Homo sapiens: one gene and its partner. The protein of the gene in region 1 purifies or fractionates together with the protein of each later gene. This does not show direct contact. Each region holds a gene or a part of one and is shown in the gene's direction. Other genes may lie near its edges.

Region 1 (8,835 bases):
TGAGTTCCACTTCTGGGGCTCTTTAGCCCTCAATTTTAACATCCCAAGAGCTGCTGTGGTCTAAAGGGCTTCTGTCCTCCTCCTTATTGCCATATTTTTTCCTGTCGTTAACATCTGCTTATTCTGCCCTTCCCCCAACGTGACTTACAAATGAGCAGCTCCCCTGGGATCTGGGCTTCCTCTCGACTTTACCCCCCTGCCCACCAGGAGCTGCCCTCGGAGGTGGGGAGGTGGGGACCGGACATCCCTGTTTCCTGCTGCCACAGCAGTTCTAATCCCTGGTGGCTCCTGCTCCCCGCCGCGCCCCCCCCACCGCCCCATGCTCCTGCTGGCCACCGCACAGCTAATCCAAGAGGAGGGAGGGTCAGGGTAGAGGGGTCACGCACCATCCTCTCCCTCACCCTGTGCAGAGCAGAGCCAGCTGGACCTACTGTGCCTTGACAGGGTGGGGCAGAGAGGGAGAGGGTGGCAGCCCCCTCTTCCCGCAAAGCCCTTTAGCAACATCCCCCGATAAATGGGGCAGCAGCTGTGTATCTTATCCTTCCTACCTTTCTGCCTTCCTTCCACCCTTTCTGCTCTCTTGCCTGAGAGACTATAAATGGTACAGAGTGTCCTAGAGGAAGTGGGAAGCTTGGAGGCTGTATGGGGCTGTGACTTCACAACCCTCTCCTGCCCCCTTCCTCCAGCTGGAAGCCAGGTTGGCCCACAGCTTTAGCAGGGTAGGGGTAGGGGAGCATCTGCATGCCACATGCTTGTGCTTCTGCCTCCCAGGCCCACTCCCTGACTGTTCTAGGGGAGGAGGAGGAGAACTGAGGGTCCTCCTTCCCAACACACACACGCACACGCCTTCTCCTACCACAGCAAGTGAAGAATCTCACTTCTTCTCTCCTGGCTTCCACAGAGGATGAAACCAGGCATTCCTTGGCCTAAGGAGAAGAGGGAGAGGGATGTGAGAGTAGTGGGTGGGTGGGGAGGCCAGGGCTTGGGAAATAAGTGGGAGAGACCCAGCATGCCCTGCGGCCACTGTGCAAGCAGCACCCAGTGCCCCCTTCCTCCCCCAGGCCCAGCGAGGAGATGGTGAAGATGGTGCTGAGCCGGCCCTGCCATCCTGACGACCAGTTCACCACCAGCATCCTGCGGCACTGGTGCATGAAACATGACGAGCTGCTGGCCGAGCACATCAAGTCCCTGCTCATCAAGAACAACAGCCTGCCTCGCAAGAGACAGAGGTGGGACACGGTCCCTGTCTACCCTCCAGGCCATGGCGGTCTGCAGTGATTGCTGTCGGTGGTGGTGGTGGTGGTGGTGGTGGTGGTGATGGGGGTCAGTGCTGTCCCAGCCTGGTTTGTGGGCGACATCTAGTGGTCCGAAGCCACATGGCATGCGAGACCACCGTGGCCCTTTCTCCCCATCTTCCAGTGCCCCTGTGGCCAGGATCCCCTGTTCTAGGCACACCTTTCTCACCCAACCCCAGCCCTCCCAGGCTGCCTATCCTGTTCCCCATGTAGGCTGCCTCTGTCTTAAGGGGGCCCTGGCGGGTGGAGGGTGTCTCGCACTCTGGAACCCTCCCACACTCAGACTCTGGCTCTGGTGATTCCTGCACAGCCTGAGGAGCTCTAGCAGCAAGCTGGCCCAGCTGACTCTGGAGCAGATCCTGGAGCACTTGGACAATCTGCGGCTCAACCTGACCAACACCAAGCAGAACTGTATGCCTTCCACCCTCGGCGTCCAGTGTAGACGGTGCTGCCCTGGCCCAGACTATGCCTGGAGCCAGGCTGGGGGCAGGGGCAGGACACCCGGGGCCACAACCCACACTCGGGATAAAACAACCTGTGCGTGCTGTTTAATAAGCTCCCAGACATCTGATTGTTTTTCCTTCCCTGCTCTCCCTTTTCTTCCTCTAGTTTTTAGCCAGACGCCAATTCTCCAGGCGCTGCAGCATGTCCAAGCGAGCTGTGACGAAGCCCACAAGATGAAGTGAGGCTCCTGCCACTTTGGGCCTTGGAAAGTAGTAGGGGAAAAGCCTAAGGGAGAGGAAGCCTGCTAGGGACATAAACGTAATGGCCAGCAAGACCTTAGGGTCCAGGGTTGAAGAAAAAGAAGGCCTAGGCCTGGGGGCAGAGAAGAGGATGGGAGGTGCCGTAGGAGCAGCAGGCTCCCACTCAAAGAGCTACCGCTCCTTTTCCTTAGATTCAGTGATCTCTTCTCCCTGGCGGAGGAATATGAGGACTCTTCCACCAAGCCACCCAAGAGCCGGCGAAAAGCAGCTCTGTCCAGCCCTCGAAGTCGAAAGAATGCCACACAGCCCCCCAATGCCGAAGAAGAGTCGGGCTCCAGCAGTGCTTCAGTGAGAACCCAGCCAGTGCACAGGGGGAAAAGGAGCACTGGGTGCAGGTGGAGTCGGCGCCAGCAGCTGCCCAGGCTGTTAACTTCCCATTTCCCCTCCCATCTCTTCCAGGAAGAGGAAGACACGAAACCGAAGCCTACCAAGCGGAAACGAAAAGGGTCCTCTGCAGTGGGCTCTGACAGTGACTGAGGCCCTGCATTCCCCATCCCACCCCCGGCTGGACTGCCCTCTCCTTCTTGGTGATTCAAAGGTTAATAGAGGCTGAGGAGATTGCAGGGGAAACACCCTTGCTGCATCCCCAAGCTCCCCCGGTGGAAGGAGGAGCTTTCTCCTCTGGCTGAGTTTGAGAAGCTGCCATGCAGCCCCTAGCCCCTTCCCTCCTCCTGGGGCCTCCAGCCCCTCACACTGCTGTTCCCAGTGATATTTGGGATCTGACTGAAGCCAGAGGCTCTGTAAAATCAGACCATAGTGGAAGTCCTCAGCCCCCTGGCCCCTTCCGCAATCTCCTCCCCCAGTCTCCCAAAGAGCCATTTCAACAGAGAAGGGAAATGACAAAGGGGCAGCTGGCCAGATAAGCTAGGATGAGAGCAGAGACTCAGTGTGTGGGTGTCCCTTCCTGCTTCCCCTTCAGGTCTTGGTTTGTTCTGAAGGGACGTTTTATAGTCACTATCCACATGCCAGTGTGAAATGGGCATCTATGACGTGGTCAGGGTGTCCATTCCTAATCATGGGGCAGATGCCACAAGCATTCAGAAAGGAGTCTGAAAGGGTGGCCACAGCCCCACGTGGTGTGCCCTGGAGGCTTAGGTTGGTCTGAGGTTGGCACCTCAATCTACACCAGAGCCCAGGGAGTCCCAGAGGCAAGTTTCACAGAATTGTCAAATGATCCCATTTCCTTGAGTCTGTTTTTTTTTTTGTTTTTTTTTGTTTTTTTTTTGGCAGAGATAATCGTGTCTTAAAAGTTGTTTTTAAATGACAATAAAACAAGCCAGAATGTCTTTTGTGCTGGAGTGTCTGCTGGCATTTGCCCCGTGCATGTATAGCTTGGTCTTGATTTGATTGGCACCCCTACTTGTAACCGCAGAACATCCCCCTTTCCCTTCCTGTTCTGCCCCCACTTTTGTCTAGAGCAGAAGGGACTTGGCTTTGGCCACTACCCATCCTTCCTGCTGCCACTGGAGGTGGGAGCCAGGCACTGATCTGTCTATGCAGAACCATCCCCCGTAGGATGAGGCCTGTCCTTACTCATTTCTCAAGAAACAAGATGCTTCCAAAAGGTCTGTCATCCTCCAGTTGAAGTCTGTGTGCCTACCAAGAATGGCCGGAGGACTCGCTGCTTGACGGGAGGGATGCTCCAGCTTGGTCTCCAGGGACAACTGTACCTGGAGATAAAGTCTGGATACCAGGGAGGGACAGAGATGCTCTTCCTTCCACAGTGTGGCCACTTGCTGGGCCATGTGAACCAGCAGAGGAGAGTTCCTTGGCTATGCTGTTGTTCCCCCGCTGTCCAGGGAGAATGGAGGTGGACTGAGGAGTGAAGTTTGGGCGAACTGCACAGAGCTGCTCCTCTTCACCCCGAAAATTTGTCTTTTTACAGAATCCAGGTTCTCCCCTCCCTCATCACTGCTGTTGCTTCCTTTGAAAGTCTAAACCACTGGAGGCTTCTTTTTCCTTCCTCTCTCCTTCCCCAGTTTCCTCTGTCCCAATTAAAACCAGGATGGAGAGCATTTGCTGGCTGGCCCCAATTATTGTACCCTTGCCCAAAGGGAGGGGCCTCTGTCGTGACCCCTCAGAAATCTGGCAGTCTGGGTTTCCACCTTTCCCCTATTTAACTCTCAGCCCCCACCCATCCCCTGGGGTTGCGGCTGGCAGGCCGGGACTTGCAGAACCAAATGGGCCAGGGGCCAAGTTCATTCTTTTGGGAGAGAGCAATGGTACCTTCCCTTAACGGGAAAACGAGAAATATTGAGGGGAAGATGGACTGCGATCCAAACGCCCTGGCTCTCAGGCCTGGACTCTAGGGCTTAGCCAGATGCCTAAACCGCCCAAGCCGAGAAACAACTTAGAAGACAGACATAACCCTGGGATTCAGGGAAGGCGCGAGCACCGCCCAGGACCTGGTAGGGTGCGAGCCGCGAGCAGTCCGGGAGGGAGCGCGCCTAGGGCGGAGCGTAGGCTGTGGGGGGAGGGCTGGGAGTCCGGGGCCGCCCCACACCCGCACTCCTCCCGGGTTTCTGCTCTCCGCCCGTGTGGAGTGGTGGGGGCCTGGGTGGGAATGGGCGTGTGCCAGCGCACGCGCGCTCCCTGGAAGGAGAAGTCTCAGCTAGAACGAGCGGCCCTAGGTTTTCGGAAGGGAGGATCAGGGATGTTTGCGAGCGGCTGGAACCAGACGGTGCCGATAGAGGAAGCGGGCTCCATGGCTGCCCTCCTGCTGCTGCCCCTGCTGCTGTTGCTACCGCTGCTGCTGCTGAAGCTACACCTCTGGCCGCAGTTGCGCTGGCTTCCGGCGGACTTGGCCTTTGCGGTGCGAGCTCTGTGCTGCAAAAGGGCTCTTCGAGCTCGCGCCCTGGCCGCGGCTGCCGCCGACCCGGAAGGTCCCGAGGGGGGCTGCAGCCTGGCCTGGCGCCTCGCGGAACTGGCCCAGCAGCGCGCCGCGCACACCTTTCTCATTCACGGCTCGCGGCGCTTTAGCTACTCAGAGGCGGAGCGCGAGAGTAACAGGGCTGCACGCGCCTTCCTACGTGCGCTAGGCTGGGACTGGGGACCCGACGGCGGCGACAGCGGCGAGGGGAGCGCTGGAGAAGGCGAGCGGGCAGCGCCGGGAGCCGGAGATGCAGCGGCCGGAAGCGGCGCGGAGTTTGCCGGAGGGGACGGTGCCGCCAGAGGTGGAGGAGCCGCCGCCCCTCTGTCACCTGGAGCAACTGTGGCGCTGCTCCTCCCCGCTGGCCCAGAGTTTCTGTGGCTCTGGTTCGGGCTGGCCAAGGCCGGCCTGCGCACTGCCTTTGTGCCCACCGCCCTGCGCCGGGGCCCCCTGCTGCACTGCCTCCGCAGCTGCGGCGCGCGCGCGCTGGTGCTGGCGCCAGGTAAGGCTGGAGCTCCGAACTGACTAAGGCGGGGCCAGCCACAGAAGGGGGCGTGTCGGAGACCACAGAAAGGCTTGGTCTCATCCCTGGGCCTGGGAAGAAGCCGACTATCCCTTGGGGTTCGAAAGTGGGTGGAGATAGGAGTCTCCGGGTTTGAGAAGGGATGAGGCTGAATCTTTGGTGCCCCAAGGATCCCCAAGGAGTCGAGTTCCAGGCCTCAGACCCAAGATGGAATGTCCATACCCTTCACCCTCATCCAAGAGCAGTGTGGGCTGGGATAGGGAGGGGACATGGGTCATAGGCTCTTCTAGGTAGAGCCAGGGCCCCGGCGTTGTGCTTTCCCACCCTTCTAGAGTTTCTGGAGTCCCTGGAGCCGGACCTGCCCGCCCTGAGAGCCATGGGGCTCCACCTGTGGGCTGCAGGCCCAGGAACCCACCCTGCTGGAATTAGCGATTTGCTGGCTGAAGTGTCCGCTGAAGTGGATGGGCCAGTGCCAGGATACCTCTCTTCCCCCCAGAGCATAACAGACACGTGCCTGTACATCTTCACCTCTGGCACCACGGGTGAGGGCCGGGCACCATACTTAGCTCCCCGAAACCAAGGCAGAGGAAGGCAGGGGTCTGCTCCCAGACCACTCCTTCAAAGCCCCCAGAGAGGATGCTGATTTCATTGGCACATCCTTTTTCTCCCCATCATTTCACTCCCCAGTCTCCTCACCTCCTACTCATTTCTCCACCTCCCCCAGACCACCCATATTTCCAGGACAGCCTGGTCTCGGTCCTCAGCTTCTGTCCTGCCTCCGCCTCTTTCTGTGGGAAACCCAGCGGGGGTGCAAACAGATAGGTAGAGCTTGGAGTTTGCCCTTCCCCTGATCGTCCCATAACTGCCACCCCACAGGCCTCCCCAAGGCTGCTCGGATCAGTCATCTGAAGATCCTGCAATGCCAGGGCTTCTATCAGCTGTGTGGTGTCCACCAGGAAGATGTGATCTACCTCGCCCTCCCACTCTACCACATGTCCGGTTCCCTGCTGGGCATCGTGGGCTGCATGGGCATTGGTCAGTCTCCCCAACCCCACCTTCATTAATTCATCCAGTAGACATTTATTAAGCACGTACTATGGTGTGAGTCCTCCAGGGTAGATAATCTAGAGGACGGATGGGGCAGAGCCCTACTCACCAGGAGCTCTGTACAATAGGGCAATGTCACCTGCCTAGACCTACAGACTGAGGAACGGTGAGGGGGGCCATACAGCCACATAACTCCAGGCTGCAGGGTCAAAGGCAGGGAAGGACTGTGTCAGTCCAGGAACAGGCAAGTAAGAGAAGAGGGAGAGAGAGACAAGGAAGTGAGAGTGTGGAGGATGAGATCTTTGGGGCTGGGAAGTAGGGAAAGGGCATTCACCTCTTCTAAGGCTGGGGACAGGGGCCGGGGGAGGGGAAAGAGGGCCAGCACGGCTTCCTGACGGTGTGACTCCCACAGTGGGCCCTTCCCAGGGAAAGACTACAGTGATGGCTGGGGTCTGGAAAGAGGGGCTTGGGCTCCCCACTCTGCTCCTAATCTTACCTCCCTTCTTCCCCCCTGCCCACTTCTGGCAGGGGCCACAGTGGTGCTGAAATCCAAGTTCTCGGCTGGTCAGTTCTGGGAAGATTGCCAGCAGCACAGGGTGACGGTGTTCCAGTACATTGGGGAGCTGTGCCGATACCTTGTCAACCAGCCCCCGGTGCGTGGGCACAGATCCTGGGCAGAGCTGCTGACACAGGGCTAGCTCACGGGGAGCAGGACAGTTGACAGGAGACAGGGAGTTGGAGGGAGAAGCAGCAAGAAGAAAATGGCAGTGTAAGATAAGGAGCCAGAGATGGCCTAGGCCATCTGATGCTTACGGCCTCTGAAGGAGGTCACAGTAGGAGGGGGTTCTGGGGAATGGGGAACAGGAATTCACTTCCGGGAGCGGGCATCTTGATGCTGAAGCTCCGGCCCCTCTCCCACTCATCTCAGAGCAAGGCAGAACGTGGCCATAAGGTCCGGCTGGCAGTGGGCAGCGGGCTGCGCCCAGATACCTGGGAGCGTTTTGTGCGGCGCTTCGGGCCCCTGCAGGTGCTGGAGACATATGGACTGACAGAGGGCAACGTGGCCACCATCAACTACACAGGACAGCGGGGCGCTGTGGGGCGTGCTTCCTGGCTTTACAAGGTGAGGGGCAGAGAGGAAACTGAAAACCCGTGGAACAGCAGAGGGCTGGCAGGAGAGGGGGCTCATGTGACTGCAATGATCCAGTACCCAGGTCTCCCTTTCCCCAGCATATCTTCCCCTTCTCCTTGATTCGCTATGATGTCACCACAGGAGAGCCAATTCGGGACCCCCAGGGGCACTGTATGGCCACATCTCCAGGTTGGTGGTGTTCTGGTGGGGTGGGCGGGGTGCTGAAGCTGGCACAGGAGGACTGGAATTGGAGACTGGGGTGGATGGGGGCAGAAGGCTCTGGGAAAGGTGACACCACTCCTGACCCTGGTGACTCTGCCAGGTGAGCCAGGGCTGCTGGTGGCCCCGGTAAGCCAGCAGTCCCCATTCCTGGGCTATGCTGGCGGGCCAGAGCTGGCCCAGGGGAAGTTGCTAAAGGATGTCTTCCGGCCTGGGGATGTTTTCTTCAACACTGGGGACCTGCTGGTCTGCGATGACCAAGGTTTTCTCCGCTTCCATGATCGTACTGGAGACACCTTCAGGTATCTGTCCATAACTGGTTTTTCATCCTGGACATCTGATCTCTGTGATCCAAAGCTTCTGAACCTCAACTCTCTAATCTGCCACCTCAACCTGGGTCCTAAGCTAATCTCTCATTCTCAGATCTCACCATTTCATCCCTGTGACACTGACCTCTGACCTCATCTCCCCACCAAGCCCATAAGGCCCTGACCCCTGACTCCCAGTTTCAGATCTCTGCTCTCTGACAGGTGGAAGGGGGAGAATGTGGCCACAACCGAGGTGGCAGAGGTCTTCGAGGCCCTAGATTTTCTTCAGGAGGTGAACGTCTATGGAGTCACTGTGCCAGGTGCCTAGGCATGGAAGGTGGGGGAGGCACCCAGCCACCACCCCGAATTGGTAGTACTTGGGCGCAGGGAGCACGAGGCCTTCGTGGTGGTCAGCCATGGAGGGGCTTACTCTGTCTCCCACACCCACCAGGGCATGAAGGCAGGGCTGGAATGGCAGCCCTAGTTCTGCGTCCCCCCCACGCTTTGGACCTTATGCAGCTCTACACCCACGTGTCTGAGAACTTGCCACCTTATGCCCGGCCCCGATTCCTCAGGCTCCAGGTAACCGGCCACTTCCCCCGCCGGCCCCTCACCCCATATATCCTCACCCCACATATCCACCCCGTGTATCAACTTAGGAGTTTGATGGCTCCCAAA
Region 2 (8,163 bases), on another chromosome or scaffold:
TTGAGATGGAGTCTCGTTCTGTAGCCCAGGCTAGAGTGCAGTGGCACAATCTCGGCTCACTGCAACCTCCGCCTCCCGGGTTCAAGCAATTCTCCTGCCTCAGCCTCTTGAGTAGCTGGGACTACAGGCACGTGCCACCACACCTGGCTAATTTTTTTTTTTTAAGTAGAGACAGGGTTTCACTGCGCTAGCCAGGATGTTCTCAATCTCCTGACCTCGTGATCCGCCCGCCTTGGCCTCCCAAAGTGCTGGGATTACAGGCGTGAGCCACCGCGCCTGGCCAGAGCAGTGGTTCTTAAGTGTAGTCCCTGGATCAGCAGCATCCCTTTGCCTGGAAACTGATTAGAAATGGAAATTCTTGGGCCCCACCCAAGACCTACTGAATCAGAAACTGTGGGATGGGACCCAGCCAGCCGTGATCCTGCTGTGTGGTGAGATTTGAGCCCTGCCGCACCATGTGCCTCCTAACCCAGCCTACACCCAGGTAACAGCCAACAGCCAGGTTGCACCACAGCCGTGGCACAAACTATGATGGAAAATGTGTCTTCCTGGTTTTACTCAAACTTGCATGTTTTGTTTTATTCTCTTTTTTAAAACCACAAACTCTTGGAGACTGCTAGCTTCAACTTTTTTTCTTTGCACGAGGTTTAGTGGTAGTTGTATCTTTCTGTTGAGTAATGATTAGTTGTCTCATAAGAGAGCTAACTAGAAAGACAGCCTATTCGCAGAGAATCGGAGGGGTTTTTCTTTTTCAGTTTTTAACTTTGGATAATTGACCCCCGTGTTCCCCATAGCCTGAGTCCTGCTGGGGTAGCAGCTCTGCCTAGTGGAGGGCAGGGACAGGGAAGGCCCTGGGAGAGGAAGACAGCTGGCTTACTGCTGTCAGTCTACGCTTATTCTCCGTGAACGAGCAAGTGTCCCAAGGTCCTTTGAGGGACCAGGGTCTGAGGCACTGGGCTGCTGGATGTGTGCAGCTTATGGTAGCATTGTGTTTTGCTTCTCATGAGAACCTTGTGGGAGCCAGTTCTCACCCCATACTCAGCAGGCTGAGGTCAGGGTAGCTGTTTATGGCTTACTTTTTTTAAATTTATTTTTATTTATTTATTTGTTTATTTATTTATTTATTTTGAGACAAGGTCTTGCCTTGTTGCCCAGGCTGGAGTGCAGTGCACCCTAGACCTCCCGGACTCAAGGCATCTTCCTACCTCAGCCTCCTGAGTAGCTAGGACTACTTAAGAGGAAGCAGGGGAGGAAGGGGACGTGGAGGTGGGGGGTCCTCTCTAGGTTGCCCAGGCTGTTCTTCTGGGCTCAAGTGATCTTCCTGCCTCAGCCTCCCAAAGTGCTGGGATTACAGGTGTGAGCCACTGTGCCCGGCCTACTGGTTTATTTTTTAAAGCACATGGCACCATCTTACTGTGAACTATCTTTTCTCCTCAGCACATTCCCACATTTGGGAGTAATAGTTAGCTGGAAATACTGTGGGTCTTTTAATTTAAACTTTTGTTTAGTTGTAAATTTCAAGCTCATTGGACAACACAAACAGCAGTTTTATCTTGAGATGCAAGTTTATGCTGTGCATCAGAGCAACGGTATTAGCTGACGCTACTCATCCATTCAGCATATATTAAAATTTATTGAGCACCTATCTTGAGGCCATGCTCTATTCCAGGTCTTGGGGATACATAGTGAACAGGACAGACAGGAACCTCTGCCTCCCTGGAGCAGACAATGTAGTAGAAGGAGGCAGGGAGTGAATGAAGTAAATAAGCAAGTACTAGGGAGAGAATCAAGGTAGAGAAAGGGAATGGAGCCCTGGGGCTGGGGGTGGCAGAGAGATTTCCAGTTTTAAATTGGGTGATCAGGGAATGTCCCACCTAGAAGATGCATTTGAGCAAAGGCAGGCAGGAGACTGGACCATGTGTTTTCCCAGGGAAATGGTGTTCTTGGCAGAGCAGACAGCAAGCACAGAGTCCCTGTAGGCCTGGTCTGTGCTGGGCACTGTACTGAACACTTGATGCTGACTATTGAATTGACTGGTCACAGCATCCTTGGAAGCTGGTTCTGCCATTATGCCCATTTTACTGATGAGAAAACGGAAGCTCAGGGAGATTAAATTACTTACTGGCGGTGTCACAGGTCATATTGGGTACTGCTGGGACTTGAACCTGACAGTTCAGTTCAGCCTCAGGGCCCATGTGTCTAACCAGCATTGCCAAACAGTCTCCCAAGCAGAGATTTGGAAGCCTATTTTATTTATTTATTTTTATGGTTTTTTTTTAATTGAGATGAAATTCACATAATGTAAAATTAACCATTTTGAAGTGAACAATTCAGTGGTGTTTAATATTAATACATTCACAACGTTGTACAATGAACACCTCCGTCCAGTTCCAAAATGTTTTCGTCAACCCAAAAGGAAACCCCATACCCATAAAGCAATTGCTCCCTGTTTCCCCCATCCCCTCCCAGCTCCTGGCAACAACCAATGTGCATTCTGTCCCTATGGCATTTACCTATTCTGGAATTTCATTTAGAAACGGAATCGTGTATTTTATTCATTTTTTGTATAAACTTCACAGATAAGCAAGCACGCACAGTGAAAATCGAGCCTCTTTCCCTGGTCTGTCTAGTCAAGTGTTCTGGGTGTAATAAGCATGTGTGTGTTTCTGCCAGCCCCAGTGGTGGCATGCTGTTCCACTGCACAGCGTCTTGGCAGTGGCTCTACATCAGCATGTGTTCAGCTGGCTATACGTGGCTGCTGTGCAATGTGCCTAGGTCACCTAAGGTCACCTAAGCAGCCCTCACTGATGGGCCTTTGGAATGTACCCACCTACAAGGGGCAGGCGTAGCTGCAAGATGAGCTCCCAGGAGTGGGACTGTGGGGCTGCGTGGTTTGTGTCCTTTAGGTGTGGCTTGGTTGCTTCCTGCAGAGCTCATGCCAGGGCTGAGCTGCCAGCTATGTAGGAGAGGGTTTGCTCCACACCTGCTTTGGTGGCAGAGCTTCCATCTGCTCTTCTGCGACCTACCTTGGGGCAGAGGAGGAAGTCTTTCGGTCTGAAGATTGGCAGTCATTGCCTGGCCCTGTGTGGGGACCATGAAGAGACCACATGCTCCTCCAGACCACTCCTCCCTTGTCGGTAGCCTGAGGAGGCTGGACAGCTGAGGGGCTCCCTCCCACAGATACTTTTTCCTCCCCTACATCTGGTATTACTTGAAAGATTTTGTCTACCCAACACGCTACATTTGTTAAATAATGGTTAGATTCTACTTCCAAACAGAAGAATGTTTAATGGTGCAGGGCGCTTGGCAGTGAGAGTCAGAGTGACACAACTCCCCATGAGAGGTGATGTCACTCAGGCCAAAAGCAAAGCAAAGTAGATGTTTGGGTTAGCTTGGGCCCCTTCCTAGGTTGAACTGAAGGTGTCCCTTTGGGCATTTGACTTTGTGGGAAGAGCTTGTGAATCCCTGTTGCCACCTTTGTAAGCCCTTAGAGTCTCAAGATGCCCAGTTTCCAGTTACTGATTAACTTGGCACGGGAACTCTCCTGGCACTTTCCATGGCTGGTCTTTGTGGGTTTAGTAAAATAGGATCCTACAGAGGCGTGTCTCTTTCCCTACTCTGCTGGGCCTACTTCCTCCTCCAGCCATCCTCCCCACCCCCTGTCCCCGTTGCCTCTTTGTGTCTCTCTGTCCATGTTGTTGGGTTTTTGGTCTTCTAGGCGTTGCTCCTGGCCTACACCACCTAGTGCAGTGTGGCTTCTGTTTTAGCACCACTGCTGACACTGCAGAGGTGGGGTGCAGAGGGCACCGTGCCTTTGTTAGTTGTGCCCCACCGTCTCCTCCATGTGATCCACCTATCTTCCTCACACTGGTCCTCTTCTCCCTTTCTAAGGAAAAAGGACACAAGCCGGGTGTGGTGGCTCACACCTGTGATCCCAGCGACTCAAGAGACTGAGGCAGGAGAATTGCTTGAGCCCAGGAGTTTAAGACCAGCCTGGGCAACATAGTGAGACCCCATCTCTACAAAAAACACAAAAATTAGCCAGGCATGGTGGTGCACACCTGTAGTCCCAGCTACTTGGGAGGCTGAGGTGGGAAGATTGCTTGAGCCCAGGAGGCTGAGGCTGCAGTGAGATATGATCATGCCACTGCACTCCAGCCTGGGTGACAGAGGGAGACCCTGTCTCAAAACAAAAACAAAAACAAAAAACCCCACAAATAAACCACTTGTCATAGGCTGGGTTTCCTGGGAAGCTGACTGAGACAGAGTTGACCATACAAGGGCTTATTAAAAGGTGCTTTTGGGGTCCCCACCTGTGGAAGATGGAGAAGGAATCAGGAGTGGGTAGAGGAGAGCTGAGCTGCTGGGACCTGACCCCGCAGGGAGCCTGGGAGCTGGAAAAGTCCTTTAGGGTCATCCTAGTTGGCCTGACATGGCCTGGCCTTCACACTCCCTCATGGATCAGCTGTTGGCTGTGGGCTGCCCAGGAAGATGGTGACTTTGGGCGAGGCAGCTCTGTGCAGCTGGGATAGTCTCTTCAGGGGCTGACAGGAGGGCAACCTGCCTGCCGCACCCCAGCAGCTGTGCCCTCCCCTGTCCTCGCCTTCATCGAAGGGCCTTTGCAGCATCCCCACAGTGCCCCCTTCCTGGGGGCAGGTAGGAGCGGGTGACTTGGGCATTATGGTTCTAGTAGTAGCTACCGTGTGTCAAGTGCCAGTGGTGTGCCGGGCACTGGAGTTCAGTGCTTTGTGGGCCTTGTTGGCATTTAACCTGCACACTTAGTTTTGATGTAGGCACCATTCTCTGTTTACAGTTGAGAAACCGAGGCCAGAGAGGTTAAGTGACTTGCTCAAGACCATATGGGTACAAGTAGTGGTGCTCCCATACCAGTCGGGATTTTGCTTCTGCTCTGACCACTTGCATGGTGGGACTAGGTGGTCTCTCACGTCTGAGTGGATGCCTTCTATTGCCCCTCCAGATTCATTCTCCACCCACGTACTGTAGGGAGCTTTTGTGGGCTCCTTGCGTTTTCCATGCCTTCTTCCCCCATATTTCAGGCTGTGGACTTTTTTTTTTTTTTTTTGAGACAGAGTCTCGCTCTGTCGCCCAGGATGGAGTGCAGTGGCGCGATCTTGGCTCACTGCAAGCTCCGCCTCCCAGGTTCAAGCCATTCTCCTGCCTCAGCCTCCCGGGTAGCTGGGACTGCAGGCGCCCGCCACCACGCCCAGCTAATTTTTTATATATATGTTTTTAGTAGAGATGGGGTTTCACTGTGTTAGCCAGGATGGTCTCGATCTCCTGACCTTGTGATCCACCCTCCTTGGCCTCCCAAAGTGCTGGGATTATAGGCGTGAGCCACTGCGCCCGGCCTGGGCTGTGGACTTTTGTGTCCCCTGGACCTGAAGCCCCTGTGCTCACCCTCCCTGCTGTGGGTGGGCCTGGGGATCTGTCACGGCTAAAGCTAACCAGGAGAGAGCCACATTCTGCTCGCTGTTAGGACCAGAGGGGTGGGAAAGGCAAGAATAAGCAGGTTCCAGGGTCTCCTGTACCCAGGAAGTGGATGGACAGGCCTGCTCCTCACCAGCATGGAGAAAGGAAGGGTTGGCATTGTGTTTGGTTTTTCTGTCTTTGGTGGATGTCCTTTCAGCAGTATCCTAACCCAGAAAACTGCAGTGACAGACCCCCCTTAGCCTGGGATCCTGAAAGCAGGTGTGACTCCTCCTGAGAATGGCCCTGCCCTGACCGGGGCCAGGGAGCCTGTCTTACTTGATTTTACTTTCCTGGCAATGCACAGGGTTAAACGAGCAGTCCAAGCAAGGAACATGTGGATGTCCTATCTATGTACCTACATGTCCTATTTGCATGACTACAGATGCCCTATCTGCATGTCTACATGACTACAGATGCCCTTCCATCTGACAGTCTGTTGCACACTGAGCTGCTCCTCGTTTTCATGACTTTTTTTTTTTTTTTTTAAATTGAGACGGAGGCTCACTCCGTCACCCAGGCTGGAGTGCAGTGGTGCGATCTTGGCTCACTGCGGCCACCGCCTCCCCGGGTTCAAGCGATTCTCCTGCCTCAGCCTCCTGGATAGCTGGGATTACAGGCGCGCACCACCATGCCCGGCTAATTTTTGTATTTTCAGTAGAGACAGGGTTTCGCCATGTTGGCCAGGCTGGTCTTGAGCTCCTGACCTCAGGTGATCTGCCCGCCTTGGCCTCCCAAAGTGCTGGGATTACAGGCGTGAGCCACTGCACCTGGCCCTTCATGACTTTTTAATTACTGTTTATCAGACTTTATTAGCAATAGATGCTTGAAATATGGTGCTTAATTCCAGCCTAGATTAAAAAATCGAGCATTTTTCACATAAAAGGAAACAACATGGGCTAGTCTTGTAATAAAGCAGCCCCTCCAGAATTCCAGAACAGAGGTCTGTCTGTGTTCCCCAGAGGCACTGGCTAACCAGCCTCCTCCCATATCAGGCATTTCATTAAACCCAAACCAACTGCTGAAGTGGAAGAAAGTGACAGAAGCTCAACAGCTGTGTGCCTCTGTCTGAGTGACTGGCATGACTAGATATGATGACGTGGGGACTGCCACCAGAATGCCTTTTGGAGATGTGCCATAATTTGAACCAGCCGAATCCAGGTTTCCATTGACATGGAAGTAAATTTCTGACTCTGCTGGTAACATTTGTCAGTGACATTCAAGACTCCAATCTCTCTGGCCCTGCAGATGCACACCCAGGGATATGGGGATGCCCAATCCTTTAGACATCGGGCAGTCTCTGTGCATTCTTTTAAAAAATTGAGGCAGAGTCTCACCATATTGCTTAGGCTGGTTTTGAACTCCCAGCTTCAAGTGATCTCCCACCTCAGCCTCCCAAAGTGCTGGGATTACAGTCGTGAGCCACTGTGCCCAGCCCATGCATTTTTTTAATGGACCAGGCAATCTTCCTAAGTCAGGAAGACATGTATTCTTAACCTTTTATTGATGTACGATGTACACATATCATAGATGTTCACAAAGTGAACCCATCTGTGTAGCCAACACCCAGATCAAGGCAGAACATGACCATCACCCAGGACGCTCCTTGTGCCCCTGTACAGTCACCACCAAGTGTCCAAGGATCAGCTGTCTGATTTCTGATAGCAAAAATGGGCTTTTAAACAAACATGGGATTTGATGTAACTTTTAAAAACTTGGAAAATGTAAAAACACATTATGGCATGTTTGGGGATGGATGAATGGAGATCGTGTGGCTGACCTGGGTGAAGCTTGGGCTGGAGACAGCAAGGAGTTGGTGCCGTCTGCCCAGGGCCACCTCCACTGTATGTCCTCCTGGGCTGGAAGCTCGCCCTGTAACAGCGGTGACTCCTGTGTGGTCAGTGGTCAAGGACTGGATACCGTCTCGGTCCTCTGTGTTCTCTGAAGGGATGTGACTACATCATGTGCCTCAGCCCCGTCCCTGCATGCCATCTCTCTCCACAGCACTTCTCTTCAGAGTTTTCCAGGGGCAGAGGTGAGGAAGCTCTCAAACTTCATTTAGATAGGTTCATCTTTTTGCTCAATCAGCAGGTCAATGATGCATACGTGTCAGGTCACACTGTGTTCTCAGCACTGGGTTGAGTGCTGTGGGGAAGGACAGCCAGTGCGATGGATTCACACTCCTCTCACTGTGACCTTGGAGACCCTCGCTCTGGCCCACCCCTCCTGTGCCTCACCTTGCTCCTTCTTCCCCGTCATCCCAGCCTTGTTTTCTCTGAGCCTGTTGAGGTCCTTGCCTTGGTGGCTCCCAACGGATGTTCTTCTGGCCAGTGCTGTGCTGCCAATGCCACCAATCCCTTCCAAGCAGGCTGATCTGCTGGGAGCTGTAGCCCTGGCGCGTCCCGACATGGATTCCCACAGCGTCTGCCTGTCCCGTCATGCTTTCTCTCTGGAGTCCTCCCTCCTTGGTATGGTATGTTTCTGCTCTGTTCTTTTGTGACCAGGAAAGAATGTCTTGTTTCTTCCATCCAGCCCTCCTGCTCTTTCCATTAACAGTCCAGAACATGAAACGGTTATTTTGACATGATCATTCTTGCCAGGGGTCTTAAAAAGTTATGTTTCTTTACATCTGTTGATTTGTGACTGTCACATAGGAGACAGAACTGTGCAAGAAAG

What was found.
Region 2: the proteins of SLC27A3 (region 1) and LIMD1 purify together in Homo sapiens (affinity purification with mass spectrometry; 3 studies listed by BioGRID and IntAct, with this or other methods). This does not show direct contact.

The regions. Positions count from the first base shown.
Region 1 is NC_000001.11:153,770,735-153,779,569, forward strand, and holds the start of SLC27A3 (long-chain fatty acid transport protein 3), read left to right. Parts: upstream 1-4,672; 5' UTR 4,673-4,763; coding exon 4,764-5,430; intron 5,431-5,783; coding exon 5,784-5,993; intron 5,994-6,327; coding exon 6,328-6,486; intron 6,487-7,026; coding exon 7,027-7,151; intron 7,152-7,426; coding exon 7,427-7,621; intron 7,622-7,728; coding exon 7,729-7,819; intron 7,820-7,952; coding exon 7,953-8,151; intron 8,152-8,379; coding exon 8,380-8,477; intron 8,478-8,608; coding exon 8,609-8,739; intron 8,740-8,835. Other genes in the region: INTS3 (integrator complex subunit 3), read left to right, coding at 1,062-1,229, 1,606-1,706, 1,905-1,977, 2,191-2,347, 2,459-2,536. UniProt on the Homo sapiens protein: Mainly functions as an acyl-CoA ligase catalyzing the ATP-dependent formation of fatty acyl-CoA using LCFA and very-long-chain fatty acids (VLCFA) as substrates.
Region 2 is NC_000003.12:45,596,878-45,605,040, forward strand, and holds part of LIMD1 (LIM domain-containing protein 1), read left to right. Parts: intron 1-8,163. UniProt on the Homo sapiens protein: Adapter or scaffold protein which participates in the assembly of numerous protein complexes and is involved in several cellular processes such as cell fate determination, cytoskeletal organization, repression of gene transcription, cell-cell adhesion, cell differentiation, proliferation and migration.